Linked DNA regions of Homo sapiens: region 1 is linked to region 2. The links come from fine-mapping of genetic effects on gene expression. A gene starts in region 2. The other region holds a variant in brackets. All regions are shown on one strand. Distances are between the middles of the regions. Region 1 overlaps PIK3R6 (phosphoinositide-3-kinase regulatory subunit 6). Region 2 holds the start of PIK3R6 (phosphoinositide-3-kinase regulatory subunit 6).

What was found. PIP is the estimated chance that this variant, and not a neighbour inherited with it, causes the effect.
Region 1: its variant is fine-mapped to the expression of PIK3R6 in whole blood (INTERVAL, PIP above 0.99).

The regions. Positions count from the first base shown.
Region 1 is chr17:8,833,258-8,842,273 of GRCh38, forward strand. PIK3R6 (phosphoinositide-3-kinase regulatory subunit 6) reads right to left here. Exons shown (of 20, transcript NM_001010855.4): 3 at 6,357-6,440; 4 at 5,307-5,398; 5 at 4,546-4,614; 6 at 3,534-3,666; 7 at 3,290-3,359; 8 at 2,016-2,199. Among named protein-coding and RNA genes, the nearest start is that of PIK3R6, 30 kb to the right of the region's middle. RefSeq lists enhancers at 1-43, 3,569-4,375. The variant T/C (reference allele first, on the strand shown) is at 5,067.
Region 2 is chr17:8,864,006-8,873,021 of GRCh38, forward strand. It overlaps PIK3R6 (phosphoinositide-3-kinase regulatory subunit 6), which reads right to left and starts at 3,669. Exons shown (of 20, transcript NM_001010855.4): 1 at 3,524-3,669. It overlaps LOC107985071 (a long non-coding RNA gene), which reads left to right and starts at 3,769. Exons shown (of 2, transcript XR_001752787.2): 1 at 3,769-4,000; 2 at 4,527-5,028. RefSeq lists enhancers at 895-964, 1,015-1,154, 1,265-1,614, 3,438-3,617, 3,648-3,797.

The DNA of each region.
Region 1 (9,016 bases), 31 kb before region 2:
CTATTATGGGGAGACTACTGGTCTGCAATGTCTGTTACCCAGAGAGGCAGAGATAGCCACTGACGCCCACTTCCTGAAAGCGTCACCCAGCACTTGGATCAATGTTCTAGCCCCCACTAGATTGTGAATTCCAGGAATTCACAGGGAATTTTGTCTGTTTCATTCATAGCTGCATCTCCAGCACTTAGAATAGCTCACTGCACCAGGTGTTGTTCTAGGGGCTGGGATACAGCAGCAAACAAAAGAGATTGTGTGATCTGGGAAGCCCCCCCTGAGAAAGTGACTTTTTTTTTTTTTTTTTTGAGACGGAGTCTTGCTCTGTCACCCAGGCTGGAGTGCAGTGGTGTGACTTTGGCTCATTGCAACCTCTGCCTCCTGGGTTCAAGCGATTCTCCTGCCTCAGCCTCCCGAGTATCTGGGACTACAGGTGCGCACCACCACATCCAGCCAATTTTTGTATTTTTAGTAGAGACGGGGTTTCACCATGTTGGCCAGGACGGTCTCGATCTCCTGACCTCATGATCTGCCTGCCTTGGCCTCCCAAAGTGTTGGGATTACAGGCGTGAACCACCGCGCTTGGCCGAAAGTGACTTTTAGGTAAAGACTTGAAGTGAAAGAGTGAGCCATGCAGCCCAGCGCGGTGGCTCACGCTTGTAATCTCAGCACTTTGGAAGGCCGGGGTAGGTGGATCACGAGGTCAGGAGATGGAGACCACGGTGAAACCCCGTCTCTACTAAAAATAGAAAAAATTAGCTGGGTGTGGTGGCCGGCGCCTGTAGTCCCAGCTACTCAGAGAGGCTGAGGCAGGAGAATGGCGTGAACCCAGGAGGCGGAGCTTGCAGTGAGCCGAGATCACGCCACTGCACTCCAGCCTGGGCAACAGAGCAAGACTTCGTCTCAAAAAAAAAAAAAAAAAAAAAAGAGTGAGTCGTGCAGGTATCTAAGAGAACGTTCCAAGCATAGGGAGTAGCCAGCGCAAAGGCCCTGGGGTGCAAGTATGTTAGGCATGTGCATGTTGGGAGACAAATGAGGAGGCTTGTTTAGCTGGAGCAGAGGAAATGAGAGGGAAAGTTAGGAGACAGGCCAGAGAGGAAATGAAGAGAGATGGGAACAGGTCAAGGCCCTCAAGATGAGGTTCTTGTATTTTTATTTTTAGAGATGGGGTGTCTCTCTGTTACCCAGGCTAGAGTGCAGTGGTACAGTCACAGCTCACTGCAGCCTTGAACTTGGCTCAAGTGATCCTCTTGTCTTCCGAGTAGCTGGGACTGCAAACACATGTCACTGCGTCTGGTATTTTTTTTTTTTTATTACTTTTTGTAGAAATGGGGTCTTGCTATGTTGCCCAGGCTGGTCTCAAACCCCTGGCCTTAAGCAATCCTCCTGCCTCGGCCTCTCAAGTACCTGCAATTATAGGCATGAACCACCACACCAGGCTCTTATAGGTCATTGCAATCACTTTGGCTTTGACTCCGAGTGAGATGATGTAGTAGCTACTGTTGTGGTGACCCAGATTCCTGCTTTCGGGGCTGAGACACTCATTCACCCTGCTGCTAGGAATACTGGCATTATCTTATATCTTATTATTGGTTTTTTTTTTGGAAATGGAGTCTCTCTCTGTCACCCAGGCTGGAGTGCAGTGGCACAATCTTGGCTCACTGCAACCTCCACTTTCCGGGTTCAAGCTATTCTCCTGCCTCAGCCTCCAGAGTAGCTAGGATTACAGGTGCCCGCCACCACGGCCAGTTAGTTTTTGTATCTTTAGTAGAGACTGGATTTCGCCATGTTGGCCAGGCTGGTCTTGAACTCCTGACCTCAGGTGATACACCCGCCTCAGCCTCCCAAAGTGCTGGGGTTATAGGTGTGAGCCACTGCGCCCAGCCAAAATGTATTAATTTTTGATTTGGGGGAAAAGGTGATGCGAAACAGGAGAAGGAGGAAGAGCAGGGTGAATGACTGGTATGGGCATGCAGGGACGAGGGCTGGGACTGACAAGGGGCTGCAGGCAGGGCCATTACCTGCAGCTTCCTGTGCAGAGCGCCTGCGTGACAGGCCTCCCCCAGAGCCGCCTGCAGGGCGTGGGAGACCACGTGGCGCATGCAGGTCTCTGGTGTCTGCTGCGCCTGGGCCGCCTCGATCTCCAGTAGCAGAGCACTGCACACAGACGCAGACACCAGCTCAGGATCCACGAAGAGGAACACTCTGAGGGCAGAAGCAGAGGGGAGAGGTGGGATTGATAGTAACTAATGGGAGAGGGGCCACCGGATGGGCACCCTCAGAGCTGTGCAGCACCTCCAAGTAATTTAATTCTGCTAAAAAGAGGAGTCTCAGATTCAAAAGTCTCTGGGTGGGATGACAATAGGGAGTGGTGAGGACTGTGGCAAATAAGAGCATGCACAGCCCTTCTAGAGGGGCAGCTCTAATCCACTGTCCACAGAGGAAAGCAGGCCTAGTCCCATGTTTAGGAAAGTTCCAGCCTCAATCCTGCTCCCTCTCTCAGCATCCTGGCCCAGGGACCAGGTCACCCTCTAGGAGGGACCCTAAATCCTTCCTGCCAGAACTGGAGTTCTGAACTCTGAGTGAATCTCACCTTCTTTCATCACTCTTATCACACCAGAGAGCCAACCTCCCCTACTCCCTCCTCCTCACCCACTGTGTCTCCCCACCTCTCCCATGGGTGCCCTGGGCCTCCTTGCATCTTTCATGAACTCAGCACCTCACACCCCAAACTCAAGCTGTGCCTTTCAGGGCCAAGTTAGTGGAGGTGCCTGCAGAAGAGGGAGGTGCCGCTCCCAACTTCATCACCCCTCTCCCCAACACGAGCAGGGGACACTTCCTCAGTCTTATCTAAGAGGCTTGGCGTCCCCCATGGAAGCCCTCTGGCTTCATTGTGCACTTGCGCCTGAGCCCCTCCGCTATGGCTATTCTGGAGTCTCCTCTGGCTGCCTGGCTGGTATGATGCTGCATTATGGCCAAGGGCAGGATGGAGGTGGAATGACAGAGCCCCAGAGTGGCCCCGAGGCCATGTCCACCTTCTGCATGTGAGCAGGGTAGCTTCCAATCCAACCTGAGAAGAAAGACCTATCCTGTGTTCAGTGGTCTCCAGAAAACAATATGGCGCCAACCTTGAATGGCAAACGCACCCCACTGCTGGACAAATATCATGGCTGGGGAGGTCTGCTAGGGCTCTTCTTAATCCAGCCTCCTCTTTTGTCCTCCTGCCAGGGAGCAGTCACTAAAGCCACAACAGTTTTAGGAGGCTGAAGGTAGCAATTTTTCTGGGGCCACTCACCTCTCCTGGTAGGGATACAGCTCATTCGTCAAGTTCTGTTCGGCAATGACCATCCTTTGGTACAGTGTCCCTGCAAACCAGACCACTTTGGCCAAACAGCCCCCAAGTCTCTGACTCCCATTCTCCACCTTCCTACAGAAGGTGTGGAGGCTTTTGAGCTCCCCGGTATCCTGGAGAAAAAGGAAAGACCCTGGGCAATGTTGGAGGTGCAGCGTGGGAGACAAAGATGCCCAGTGACTCTTACCTGGGACAGCCATCTCCGTTTTCAGCCTTATCGCGCAGTCCAAGGCGACTGTGCAGTAGGGGGTGGGCAGGGTCAGTAACCTTGTGCAAAAGGCATAGATTCTCTGGTAGAGCTCTTCTGTGATTCCTGTGGCCTGGGTGAGAGGGAGGAGGGGGAGGTGAGAGGGAGGAGGTGGAGGTAAGAGGGAGGAGGGGGAGGTGAAGGGTCCCGGGGGAGTTTCCGGGGAGGGGCTTGGGAGAAGAGGTGGAAGGTCAGGCCTAACAGCCAGACCTGGGCTCACAGCTCTCTCCCAAACCCACACCTTCCAGCCTCTTCTCCCAGCACCTGTAAGACATCCATTTGTCGCCCCGCCCCAACTTACCAAGATAAAAATTCATTGCATCAAGTTATGCAAGCAAATCAACTTCCTCCCAGCCCTCCTGCTCCATCAGGGAAGCACATTCCTGCGGTTCTCCAGGCTCAAAACCATGGAGGCACTTCCTCAGTCTCCTTTGCTCCTCCTTGCATCCCACAGGCCTGAAATGCTCCACAGTGCCCGGGAGGCCCCCCTCTCCCTCCCGACCTCAGTGTGCCCTCCGTCTCTGCCGGAGCTAAGCCCCATCTTGACCCTGGACTCTCCAGCAACCCCAGACTTGGTCTTCCTGCCTGCCTTAACCACCACTCCCACCCGCTGCAACAACACGCAGCTCCCGATTACTCCTCCTGAGACATTAACCACATGAGTATCATGTCTCTTCTCTGTGTAGGGATCAGTGATGTCTCCTGTTGCACTGCACACAGGAGCAAACCCAAAGACCTCATCCTGCCTTTCAAGGCCATTGTCTCTCCAGAGTTCTCTCTCCATATGGGAGGGAAAGGGGGTGGCTAGTGCTCAGAAGCCAGTTTAGGGCAGGCAATCCAAGGGATTTTCTAGGCTCATCCTGGCGGAGACTGAGTGCCCACTAAGGGGAGAGTGTCCAGCCCAGCCACATGCAGGTCACCACTACCACCTCGACCTCAGTCCCCAGCTCACCTTGGTGAGCACGTACATTACAGTGTGCAGCAAGGGAATGATGACATGCCGGAGGTCCTGGCTTTCCGCCTGGAAAACAGGAGATCACGTGACAGGTATTGGGCTGGGGGAATCCCCACTTCATAGCGGGAGGCAGTCTAGGCTGGGAGTGGGCAGGAGATGGGGTGGAAGGCAGCCAGGGGGAGAGCAAAGGGCCATTGTCTGCTCTGGATAGAGGAGTGGGGAGGGGAGGGCACACAGGTGAGGAAGCCCCTCAGTGAGGGTGTGGGAGCGTGGGGGGGCCTCAGAGAACTCTGCAGGTGAGGGGCCAAATTTAATTAGGGTAGGAGTCGCAGCAAAGCAACAAACAAGTCCTCAGCTCGGAGCCTCCCTTGAGTGCAGTGTTTCCCAAACGGTTGCAAAGTACAACATTGGGTAGTGTGAAGGAGAATTTAGGTGGCCCGAGGATAATTTTGAGAAACGTCAATAGTCGTATATTTATGTTTATAGGTACCTTCTGTTTCTGACAAGTGATGCGGGTT[T/C]TCCATTTGTGGTCGCGTTATAGTGCTTCTTTTTGAAAGATGTTTATTCAAGTAAAACAATGAGAGTCGACGTAAAGAAAATACTGCTTACGTAAAAGTACAGGAGGGAGATGCATATGGTAAAAATCATGCAGGCAACCAAAGCTTATGAGATATAGCGCTGCCAGGACTGAGCCCCTGCCCAATTGGCCCCTCTCTTCCTTTCATCCCCGTCTTCCTCCCTGAGGTCCAGGAACTCACCTTCTCCAGTTCTCTGAGAAGAATGCGGACCAGCACTGGGCTCTTACCGGGATCTCGCTCGACCTTCTTGTGCAGGGACCACCTCCACATGCCTGGGCCAGGAGAAAGGGGAGCCCGGCATGAGCAGGTGGGCAGTTCTTAGAGGAGACCCCTCTGAGCAGGACCCTGAGCCCTGGAGCCTCAGCTGCAGCTCTGACCAGCCACGGGTGTGACCCCGCCACCAGCGCTTGGCTCCAGGTGCACCTGGGTGGGCTCCTCCCAAGTGGGGAGTTCTAGTCTGTAGCCCTTTGTGGACAGTGAATTCCCAGGGCAGAAAGGAGGGCAGGTGGGACACACCAGTGGGGACAGGTGTGTGACAGGTGTATGCGTGTGGACCACAGAGCAGCAGTGCTTGCAGGTGTGTGCTCCGAGCCACATTCTGGAAGTCCTGCAGGCCTGGAGTGCTGAGGGGAATTAGGTTTGGAAGTGGAGCTAGGGAAGGTGGTTAACAAAGAGGGTGGCAGGCCGGGTGCCGTGGCTCATGCCTGCAATCCCAGCACTTTGGGAGGCTGAGACAGGCGGGTCACTTGCGGTCAGGAGTTCGAGACCAACCTGGCCAACATGGTGAAACTGCATCTCTACGAAAAATACAAAAATTAGCAGGGCATGGTGGCACACGCCTGTAATCTCAGCTACTTGGGAGGCTGAGGCAGGAGGATCGCTTGAACCAGGGAGGCAGAGGTTGTGGTGAGCCGAGTTTGCACCACTGCACTGCAGCCTGGGTGACAGAGTAGGACTCCATCTCAAAAACAAAAGAAAAAAAAAAGGAAAGAAAAAGGGTGGCAGATCCCCAATGTGCTCTGTGGCAGTTGCTGGGAGGGTTGAACTAGGGAGCAGAGAAGCCTTCTCAGTCCTTCAGGCTCTAGGTATTTCCAGCAGGAAAGGGGTTTGGTGAGACGACCCTTGCCCCCTGAGCTCCAGGCCGGGGCTCTTTCCTGTATGCGCGTGTATTGTTGGCTGGGGTTGGGTGGAGGTCAGAGGGACCAGCTGCTGCTGCCAGCTGGCTCTTACCTTGGTTGCTCTGCAGGGCAGGGGCCTGGGTGCTGAGCTCCCGGAGCACAGCCTGCACGCTCCTCTGGAGGTCCAGCTCCACATCTGGGCAGTGGTAGGGGTGGGAGGAAACTCAGTCCACTGAACCTCACCCTCGTCCCACCTCCATTCCTTCCGAGAGTGTCTTTAGCCATTTCTCTGAGCCTCAGGAGGTGCCCGAAGTAATCGACTTAGAGCTGGCAGCCAGCATGCCAGCCAGGGCTGGAATATAGCCTTCCCTTCCACGTTTCTGTGTTCTTTGTAAAACCTGCATTTCCCAAAGTGCAGTATGTGTACCACTGGTGGTATGTAGGACAATTTTAGGTGGTACACAAACGACCTTAAAATCTGAATAGTTATGCATTTATTTTAATGCATGTTAGAAAATACATGTATGTATTTTCATATATATGTGAAATGTATATATCCTCCAAACATATATATGAAATATATATATCCTCCAAATATGTATATGAAATATATAGCCTCCAAATATATATGAAATATATATAGCCTCCAAATATATATATGAAATATAGCCTCCAAATATATATATGAAATATATATAGCCTCCAAATATATATATGAAATATATACAGCCTACAAATATATATATGAAATATATACAGCCTACAAATATGTATATGAAATATATACAGCCTACAAATATGTATATGAAATATATATAGCCTCCAAATATGTATATGAAATATATATAGCCTCCAAATATGTATATGAAATATATATAGCCTCCAAATATGTATATGAAATATATATAGCCTCCAAATATGTATATGAAATATATATAGCCTCCAAATATATATATATGAAATATATATAGCCTCCAAATATATATATGAAATATATATAGCCTCCAAATATATATGAAATATATATATGGCCTCCAAATATGTATATCAAGTATATATACAGTCTCCAAATACGTATATGAAGTATATATCCTCCAAATATGTATATGAAATGTATATCCTCCAAATATATATGAAATATATATATCCTCCAAATATATATGAAATATATATATATAAAATATATATATAAAAAACTATTAGGTTTGTGCAAAAGTAATTGCAGTTTTTGCCATTATTATTATTATTTTTGTGTGTGTGTGTGTGTGTGAGACGGAGTCTAACTCTGTCATCCAGGCTGGAGTGCAGTGGCGCAATCTTGGCTCACTGCAATCTCCGCCTCCTGGGTTCACGCCATTCTCCTGCCTCAGCCTCCCGAGTAGCTGGGACTACAGGCGCCTGCCACCACGCCTGGCTAATTTTTTGTATTTTTAGCAGAGACGGGATTTCACCGTGTTAGCTAGGATGGTCTCAATCTCCTGACCTCGTGATCTGCCCGCCTCGGCCTTCCAAAGTGCTGGGATGACAGGCATGAGCCACCACGCCAAGCCTTTGCCATTATTTTTAGTAGTTCCTGAATCCATGCATGAAGCTAAAACTTATTTATTTTATTTATTTATTTTTTTGAAGCCTACAGCACCCTGTCTTTTCTGGTAGTCTCCACCCCCCGCCCCAAGTATAAAGCTAAAATCTAAAGTCAATTTAAAGAATCGTATCAGATACATACCAGGACAGGTGGTAACAAAGACTCTCTCCTTGACCAAACCTTACTCAGCCTCCTCTTAGCCCTCTTCTTCACTAGGGCTCAGCCCTGGCTCCTGTCCTGCCTTTGGCCTGCCCATCCCAGTTTTAGCAAGAATCCTGCCAAATCAGTTTAGGTTGGAGTCCTCCACTCTTGATATCTCCTGAACCCCTTCATCCCTTACCGTCGATGTATAAGAATTTGACTTGTGCCTCTAGCAAAAATCCTGTTAGCTCAGTTTAGCAAGAATGTCCCGACCCTTGATGTCTCCTCTTAGGAATTTTCCATCCGCTGACCCCTTCACTCTGCTCATTGGCTATAAATCCCCAACTGGCTTTTCTTTATTCCAAGTTGAGACTGCTTTCTCTTTCCTAATGCAATAGTCTTGGATAAGTCTTCCTTACCATTTAATAAGTTCCAGAATAATTTCTTTCTTTAACAGTGGTACGTTGACATGGGAAAAAAAAAAAACCATGAAAGTGGTACAAGAATAAGCAACTGACATTTGGGAAGTGTGGTAGCTGTGAGAATGTACCTCGCTCCTCTCCCACTACCGGGAGTTTAATGGAACCAGGTCCCCAGTTGCTGTGCTGTTGCAGTGGTTTGGATATTTGACCCTCCAAATCTCATATTGAAATTTGTTCCCCAGTGTTGGACGTGGGGCCTAATGGGAGGTGTTAGGGTCATGGTGGTGGATGCTTCATGAATGCCATCCTTGCGGTAATGAGTGAGTTCTCATTCTATTTGTTCCCCTGAGAACTGGTTGTTAAAAAGAGCCCGGCACCTTCCCCCTCTCTCTTGCTTCATCTCTCAGCATGTGATCTGTACACACTGGCTCCCCTTCCACCAGGAGTGGAAGTTTCCTGAGCCCTGAGCCCCTTATCAGAAGCAGATGCTGGCACCCTGCTTCTTGTACAGCCTGCAGAACGCTGAGCCAAATAAACCTCTTTTCTTTATAAATTACCCAGCTGCAGGTATTCCTTTATATTATAGCAATGCAAACAGACTAAGACAGCTGTGAAATCCATCAC
Region 2 (9,016 bases):
GGGGTGCAATGAGTGGGGGACACTAGGAAGATGTTGGGAGACAATTCTCCATAGGTTTCTGTTTGTGCATGCCTGGTGAGCATTCTTCTGCACCATCTTTTCAAATACGTTTGTATAGCAAACAGCCTTGGAAGATACTGTCCATTCTAGGACAGAAGACTAATTTGCTGTCAATATAATAGAGATAATGTCTCCTTTCAGGGTAAAAGTTGGGCAGGTTTGTTTGCAGCTCGTCATGAAAATTTGGGGTTTCCTAGGCTCAGGGTTCCTGGGCTATGATGCAACAGAGTCCATTTGGATTGGGCTCCTTGCGGCGCCCCTAGGACTTAGGGGAAAGGGGGACCTATAATCACAATGTTCATGCTCCTAGTTGTGCTGTGAGTAATAGAGTTCTTTGTCTCTGACTCTGGAGTCTCATGTCTTCTGCTGGTGACCATGAAGCTGTGGTGGGCTAACTTGTTAGTTCTAAGTTAACTTATAACTAACAGATCCTTCTAACTTATAACCCAGGTCCTTCACAGCTCTTTTTTTTTTTTTTTTTTTTTTTTTTTTAGACAGAGTCTCACTCTGTCGCCAGACTGGAGTGCAGTGGCGCAATCTCGTCTCACTGCAACCTCTGCCTACTGGGTTCAGGTGATTCTCCAGCCTCAGCCTCCCGAGTACCTGGGACCACAGGCGCCCGCCACCACGCCCAGCTAATTTGTTGTATTTTTAGTAGAGACGGGGTTTCACCGTGTTGGCCAGGATGGTCTCGATCTCTTGACCTCGTGATCCACCCACCTCGGCCTCCCAAAGTGCTGGGATTACAGGCGTGAGCCACCGCACCCAGCCCCTTCACAGTTCCTGGCAGAGGGATGAGATCAGAGACAAAGAATGAAGGGATGAATGAATTGGGATTCAGAGAGCATTCTTCCTTAAACACAGAACATCAGCACTGAACAAGTCGCAGGCCAGGTGCACACACACAGCTCATCACTCCCTTGGGGTACAACAAGCCCAAGGACTGACCACAGAACCATAGAAGCCTTCTATGGACACGGCAAAAAGAAGCAAATGGGGACCACCTGTTCACAGCTGCTGCTCCCTGTTGTTGGTGTGAGATAAAGTGGGGGTGACCTCCTGGATAGAGGAGAAGACTGAAGTAAGAGGGCTTGGAGGAAGATCTGAGGAAGCCTGGCTCAGGTTCAGAGTTTCTGAACCTGAAGATTCTGAACATGAAGATTCCAGATCTGACTGTCCCTTGTGCCCCCATCCCCCCAGCTCACCATTGCTGGCTTCTCGGACAAGCTGTTCAGACAGAAGAACCCACCACCTAGGCCTCCCTATACCTGCAGGAATAAAGCCTGGGCAGAAAAGATGTGGAGCTTCCAGGCCTCCCTATACCACAGCTGCAGGAATAAAGCCCTGGCAGAAAAGACGGGGAGCTTCCCAGGGCCACACTCTGTCTGCCTCCTGTCCTCCAGCCACTCCTGTGGCACAGAGAGAGGGGACCTGCAGAGCCTGGGTCACCTGCCTCTGTTGCCTCCCCTCTTCTCCCACCAGAGCTGCCTCGTGCCCTCAGGGTTTCAGGGGCAGCTCAGGCTTGCCAGACGTCATAGCTGTGTTTTTTTTTTTTTTGGATCGGAGCGTGTGGTGAGTGAGCTGGCAGTGAGGGACTAAGGGAGTGAGAGGACAGAGCTCTGGGTCCTGAGGGGGCCCCCTCAACCTTTAGCCCTTGCCCCCATGAGGTCTACTTCTCAGATTCCCAAGGAGCCGGGAGGTGAGGGTCCTGCTGCCCTGGCTGGCCCCCGTGGACAAGGACAGGCCTGTTTCCTCAGCTGTGTCTGCTTCTGGCTGGAAGGAAACACCTGGATATGAAAGAGCCAGTGGGGTGGGGGTGGGGGAGCATTGTTCCCAGGGGCAGGGAAGCTTGGTGGGATCTGAATTCAGGTGGGGCCTGAATGCAGCAGGGACCAGATGGCGATGACTGCAGCTTGGCATCTGCAGCCACCGTGTCAGCCGAGGCGCTTTCGTGGAGACAGTGTAGGGCCTGCAGCAGGTTCTAGTGTGAGGCAGCGGGGCATGGTGGCCAGGCAGGTGGCATTCCAATCCTGTTAATAGGGCAACTTGGGCTGCTTGCTTAAAACCTCCGTGCCTCAGTTTCCCTATCTTAAAGGGGACCTGACAACAACACCTACCTCATAGGCTTGTCATGAGACTAAATGAGATGATATTTGAAAACCACATAGAGCTAAATAAATAAATGGACCGGGCCAGGCGCTGTGGCTCATGCCTGTAATCCCAGCACTATGGGAGGCCGAGGTGGGTGGATCACGAGGTCAGGAGATCAAGACCATCCTGGCTAACACGGTGAAAACACAAAAAATTACTACTAAAAATACAAAAAATTAGCCAGGCGTGGTGGTGTGTGCCTGTAGTCCCAGCTACTTGGGAGGCTGAGGCAGGAGAATCGCTTGAACCCAGGAGACGGAGGTTGCAGTGAGCCGAGATCGCACCACTACACTCCAGCCTGCGCAAAAGCGTGAGACTGTCTCAACAACAACAAAAAAGGACCGGCCTGCGAGTGCTCCACACACCCCCTCTAGCTGTGCTCCCCCCAACACCTGACTTTCCCACTTGCTTTCCTGCCTCTGGGGGTTTGCACACTTTGCTCCCCATTGCTGAGGTGCCTCTTGCCTCCTCTTTGCACACCAGGTCCTCCCTTGAGCCTCAGCCAGGCACCACCTTCCACGGGACCCTCCCTGAGCCCGCACCCTGCAGTCTCTTTCATCCTGCACACACCACACACCTCCTGGCTCGCTGAGGACCCTGAAGGTTCTGAGTTGGTCACTCGCAGCTGTGTTCAGACCCTCTTTGCAAGCAGTCAGCCCTTCAAGGACAGAGACCAGGCCTCGGTCAGACTCTGGCACACATAGAAGATACTGGATTTGTGTATAGGAAGAGAATCAGCCAGACCAGCATGACTTTCACCAAATTCCCCAGGAAAGTGATGGGCAGATGATGTCCCAGAAAGGGCACAGACTGGGACCCAGATGTTTCACACTGAGTCCTGCTCCTTGCTAACCCACTCTGCAATCTTTGGCAAGTTGCTTCATCTCCCTAAGCCTCAGTCTTCTGTTCTATAAAATGGCACTAAAACACTTATCCAGTCAACCTCTAAATGCTGGTGAGAATCAAATGGGAAAATGGGTGTACTCTGCAGCACCGGGCATCAATCATTAGTCCTATTATTAACAGCATGTACAGGATTCCAGAAGAAAGGAGAGTCCTTCTCACAGGGTCCCGTGTCTTTTCATCTTGTGAAAATGGGCTGAAACAATCTTAACTTGGCAGAATTACCCTGCAGTGTCTGAGGTCACCCTTCTCAGAAAGACGGCCCTGGCAGCCCTGAGCCTGGATAAATAAGAGCCAGGGGTGTTTCAGCCCCCCCAGGGGCTCCCCTTCCAGGTCCCTCCGTTCCACCCCTCTATCTGTTCTGCTCAGATCTGCCTGCCTGGCGATCTCCATCCAAGCCAGCACTTACCTTGGTTCGGTGGCAGCTTCTGGGCTCCCCAAGTCCTTCAGCCAACTCCCCACGGTCCTGAGCGAGGTCCCCAGTCCCAGAGAAGCAGATGTCTTGGGGGAGCCTCCACGGGTGTCTGTGGTCTTGACTGTGCTCTTCAGATCTGCAAAGAAAAGCTCGATGTCTCACAGCTCTGTCCCCTCCTCTTCCTTCCCCTTCCTTGTGGCCCTCGAAGCTCCTCCCAGAATGCATTTTGCTGTGAGGATCCTTTCTAAAGAAGCATGACCCACGGTCACTGGAGGTCCTTTATTCTGATCGAATGTGACCAATTTTATGGGGCAGGAGGGGGACACCTCCCAAGAGACTCCCTCTGGTGTTGACGGGGGAGGGACTGATGCAGGGAGCCCTGACCTCTCTCTCAAGCTCCAGACTCACCAACCATCCCCCACCCCTGGACATGGCCAGCCAGATGTCCCTCAAGCACCTCCATCTCAACAGGTACAAACCGAGCTCATCATTTCTCCCTCTAAGCCCACTTCTCTGTTTCCTGCCTCAGAATCAGCAACCTCGGTATCATCCTAACGCCTCCCTCTTCCTCGCCTGTTACATCTAAACTGCACCAAGCCCTGTCAATAGGTCATGGATCCTCCACTTTCTTCCATCCCTATGGCTGTCACTGTTTCACCTGACTACCATGGTCTTTCTCCTGAAACACTACAATAGCCTGAGGTCCTTCACCCCACAGCCAAAGGTCTCTTTCTAAGAGTGAAACACAAATCTATTCATGTTACACTCCTGCTACAACCTTCAATGGCTCCTTATTACTTTAAAGAGAATGGCCAAACTCCTCAGTGTGACTTGCCAGACCCTTCTTGATCTGGTCCCTCCCTAAACTCCAACCTCATGCTTTATCCCCTCACTCCAGCCCCTCCCAGAAGTACTGCAGTCTCTTAACTATCCAGGCTGTGGGAATCACTTCCCAACCCTTCTCCTGGCTCATCCCTTGTCATTCATTATTTATCAGAGAAGAACAAAAAAACAAGCCTAAGAGGCAGGAGGAAAGTGGAGTGCCAGGGATGCTGGCAGAAGACAGAATGCCAAGGAGGAGACAATGGTCAACGACGCCAATGATTGTGGAGAGGACACAGGTGAAGAGAATGAAGAAGCATCTGCTGTCCTTGGCAATTAGGAGAGAGCAGTGCTGGGCAGGAACAGTAGACCTGCTGGGGGAAGTTGATCAACCGCATGGTGACACATTTGCTACTTTGTCATTTTCTTTTTTTCACATTTTGAAGTCAAACACTATTTGGGAGAGTCTCTGACACATTTCTAGAGCTTTGAAAAACTCACAGATTCTATGCTGTCATCCCGTTGGGCCTAATGGGTAAATGGCTCTAGAGAGTGACAGATTGCTGACAGCAGGGTTTGAGTGCTGGATCCAGCTATGCCTGAAATTCTGGGGCTGAATCTACTCTTGGACTGTTCATTGTACATGATCCAATAAATTCCATTCTTTTTTGGATTAAGCCTGTTGGAGTTTGTCACTTGGCTCAACTCAGAGAGCTTTGGGGCTGTGAAGTCACTGATCCTTTCCCGTAGGGGCTTGACTAGGTTCTATGCTGACCTTTCATTTTGCAGAGGAAGCTATTTGGAAAAAAAGTCCAGAAATGTAAATCATTTACTCTATTGCTGTGCCTTCCTCCCATAACTGCTTCTTTTCTGTCCCCTTCATGTGACTGAAGTCACATTCTATCTTGCATCTTTGTATTAGCGTTCTCAGCTCACATGTCTGCCTTGTTCCTCCCTCAATGAGTCCTGAAAGAGCAGGGGCTAGAGTGTTGTTCATTATTCCGTCCATCACAGGGTGAAAGAGTGTTAAGAGAATGCTTGGCTTATTTATGAAGCAAATGGGTGACTGAACGAAGGAAACGAATACGCCCAGGACAGAATAAAGGACCAAGAACTCAGCCCCTGCAGGTTCCAGACTCAGCAGCAGCTGGGCAGTGTGGCCACCCTGGGCAGCGCCTCTCCTTATCAGCCTTGGCTTAACTGAATCGGAAATCACAAGCCGAGGTCACTTCTTGTGGGTGCACTGCTCTCTTTATCATCAGCTGCCATTTCTGCAACTGCATTTGCTGTGGTACCCATAGAGGGGGCAGCTTGGTGACCATAGAGAGCCCCAGAGCTGTCCCTTGCAAAGAGGAGCTAGGGTGCTTTCATTTTTGAGTGCACACGGCTGACCGCCAGCCAGGAACAAAGGACAGTGGGAGGAGGAGGTGACAATAGGAAGGACCAAGTTCCCCCACGGACCCCAGTGCACCGTCCCTACCATCACCAAGGCAAGGCAGCACTACCCCTTTTGCCAATCCCAGCCATGTCTTTCCTCTCCAGACCATGTTCTTAGGATTTGTTTAATCTGGGTTTTCCAGGCTGTGCTCTTACCAGGTTTCTCATCTGCACCAGTCTCCAAAGAGCAGCCCCCTCTTTCCCTGCCAAAAGGCAAATGATCCGTCAGCATCAGAACTGTAAAAATTAAGGTTCCCTGCTTTCACTGTACTAGTTCCCAGATGACCTGGTCAGCTAATGGAGGCAAAGACCCCCCAGAATGATCAATGCCCAAGATACAGAAGCAGAAGGCCCACCATCTATTGTCACTCCCCTTCCTCCTCCTCCTTCTGCCACCCTCCTCTGCCAAGTGAGGGTCCCCACTCCTGGTGACCCTTCTGGGCATAGCTGCAATGGCCTCTCTTCAGGTTCTCCTATCTCAGCCAGGGTGTTTGGAAGTCTGTTTACATAACTCGCCTTGGGGTTACAAAGTTACTTACCTTCTCTACAGATGAACCACTGTTTCCAATCCATCCTCATCCATTTTCTAATCCATTACAAAGCCACTGAGAGCTTTAAACAAAAATTAAATCTTCTTGCAACTGTGGACAGAGCCACGGGTGAGGAGGGCCAGGTACCAGCATTGCGGAGGTCTGCAGGACCACAGTATTGGAGTCAGGCAAGAATTACATGCTTAGGAAAAGAGGTCCCCAGGGTCGCTTGTGTCCTCACCTGCAGTGCCACCCACCGTGGGAGCTGCTCTGGGATTATTCAGCATCGAAGGCGGCAGAATTTGTCATTTCAGTTTTCTAAGGAATCCACTTACATAAAATACTAATAAGCAAAGTCAATTTTACTAAAGATTATGTAGGAGGATGAAGGGAGTGTACATCACACGTCTCTTGGCAAACTATTCAAAAATCCTCTGTGGATAGTTCTGAGGATCCCGACGTCCCTCCTCCATGCCATGCCATTGGAGCGGGCAGCCTGGAATGGGGTGGGCTTTTGTGCTTTTTCCTGTCTCTCTTCTCCCCATGTGACCCTGACTCATTAGCGTCGGTTCCTCCCTCCTAGATTTTTTTCACAGACATATCCAAATTGTCTTCGAAGCCCATTCAGAGCACTGTAATTCCATTCTAATTCTCAACTCCCCACTTTTCTACCCCAAATTCATGACTGCCACCCACACAGATAGCTCTCTGGTTGGCAGGACCCATTTTTAGAAAACCGTGAGAGGTAATAAACCAGAAAAGAGCTGTTAGGAAAACACATTTTGATTCGTTTAAACAATCACCTCGTGAGTCAGCTACAGTTACACAGATAGGTTAAGTTTAAACGCTCTCATCCCTGGTGGAGGTGAGACTCGACACACTGCCTCGGCACAGGCAGTACCCAACTGCGGGGCACCTTTGCCTCTGGTGCAGTCCCTCCAGCTCTTGCCCACGGCCCAGAGGCAGGCAGGACAGCGTCATGCTCTAAGCCACTGGTTCGCTAAGGGTAGTCCCTGGACTGGCAGCATCAGCATTGCCCTGGAAATCCGTTATCAACTAGTACTGTCTGCTGTGGCTGTGGAAAGGGAGGAACAGTGCACACCTCGGGAATTTTCCATCCTTTACTTCCAGCAGCGTTATTTGGCAGAGTGCATGCAGAATCAGGACTAATTGGGGTGATAGAAGAAGCGGATTTATGCTTCATATCCAACCAGTCACCTTCTCAGCTATTTTTCTTATTTTTGGTGGTGGTGGGGAAGTTTTTATTTTAAATGCCATCAATGTTCTTTTTTTGTTAAGCTGTAATGTTTAAAAAACTAGTCAAGTAGGCCAGGCACGATGGCTCATGCCTGTAATCCCAGCACTCTGGGAGGCCGAGGCAGGTGGATCACCTGAGGTCAGGAGTTCGAGACCAGCCTGGCCAATGTGGTGAAACCTCGTCTCTACTAAAAATACAAAAATTAGCCTGGCATGGTGGCCGGTGCCTGTAATCCCACCTACTTGGGAGGCTGAGGCAGGAGAATCACTCAAACCTGGGAGGCAGAGGTTGCAGTGAGCCAAGATTGTGCCATTGCACTCCAGCCTGGGTGACACAGCAAGACTTCGTCACAAACAAACAACAACAAGAAGAACAAAAACTACTTAGGTAATCCATAAATATATTTCCATTATAAAAACACTCAAGCATTGTAGGACCCTAAGAGGAAAAAAGGAGGGTCTCTCTCCTCCCCCTCCTCAATTTCTTTACCCTCCCACCCAGTGATAACCATGGTAAATAGCTTAGGGTAGTTTATACATGTGAGCACCATACAAATCGCTCTTTAACTTGCTTTGTTTACTTGAAGATCACGATATATTGGTACATAAGGATCAACCACATTCTTTTCTTACATTTAAATGTACATGTTTGTTTGGACTAGTTACACATTTACAGGGTTCGAAATGGGAAGGACACAGAGAAGATCAGTCACTCCCTCTTCCGAAAGCTGCCCTTCAGGTGAAGAAAACCTTGTGACCTCCTCCTTCTCTTTTGCGGGTGCAACTGTCCCCTCTCCCAAACTCCTTGGTACTGGCAGCTCTGTGATGAGGTGAGAGGGCAGACACTTTGGGGTTGCTGTGGAGGGCGGGGCCTGGTCTCTTCTCATTTCCCCTGTTCTCATGGCTGCCTTGAGAGGGAGACCAAGTGGACCCCTGCTTCCTCTCCCTCTGCCCCTAATACCGCAGGTTCCTCCTTGGACAGGCTTTTGCTGGTGGAGCTGAGCTGGGGAGGTGTTAGGAGTCTCTTCATCTGCATGATATGCATATCACCCTCTCCATTTTCTTTTTCCAAATGAACTCACACCAGGAAGTGGAACAAATCAAGATGGCTGGGGTCAACCAGGAAATCAGTGAGAAAACGCAAAGACCCCAACTTGCATTATTTATGCAAATTGCCTGCCCTCCAAACATGTGCAGGACCACACACCCACTCATGTGCACACGCACACACACACACACACACACACACGCACGCATGCACACACTGAGCTACACCCCCAAAAGTAAGCCAGGCTACCTGGCTGGGCCCTCATCCTGGCACGTGCCTCTCACTCTGTGTGACCCTGTGCAGGCCTCTCCCAGTCTCTGGGCCTCAGTTTCCTCCTCTGTAACCTGAGGGGCTGCAGATTGGGTTTGCAAAGCCCTCCTCAGCTTTCTCAGC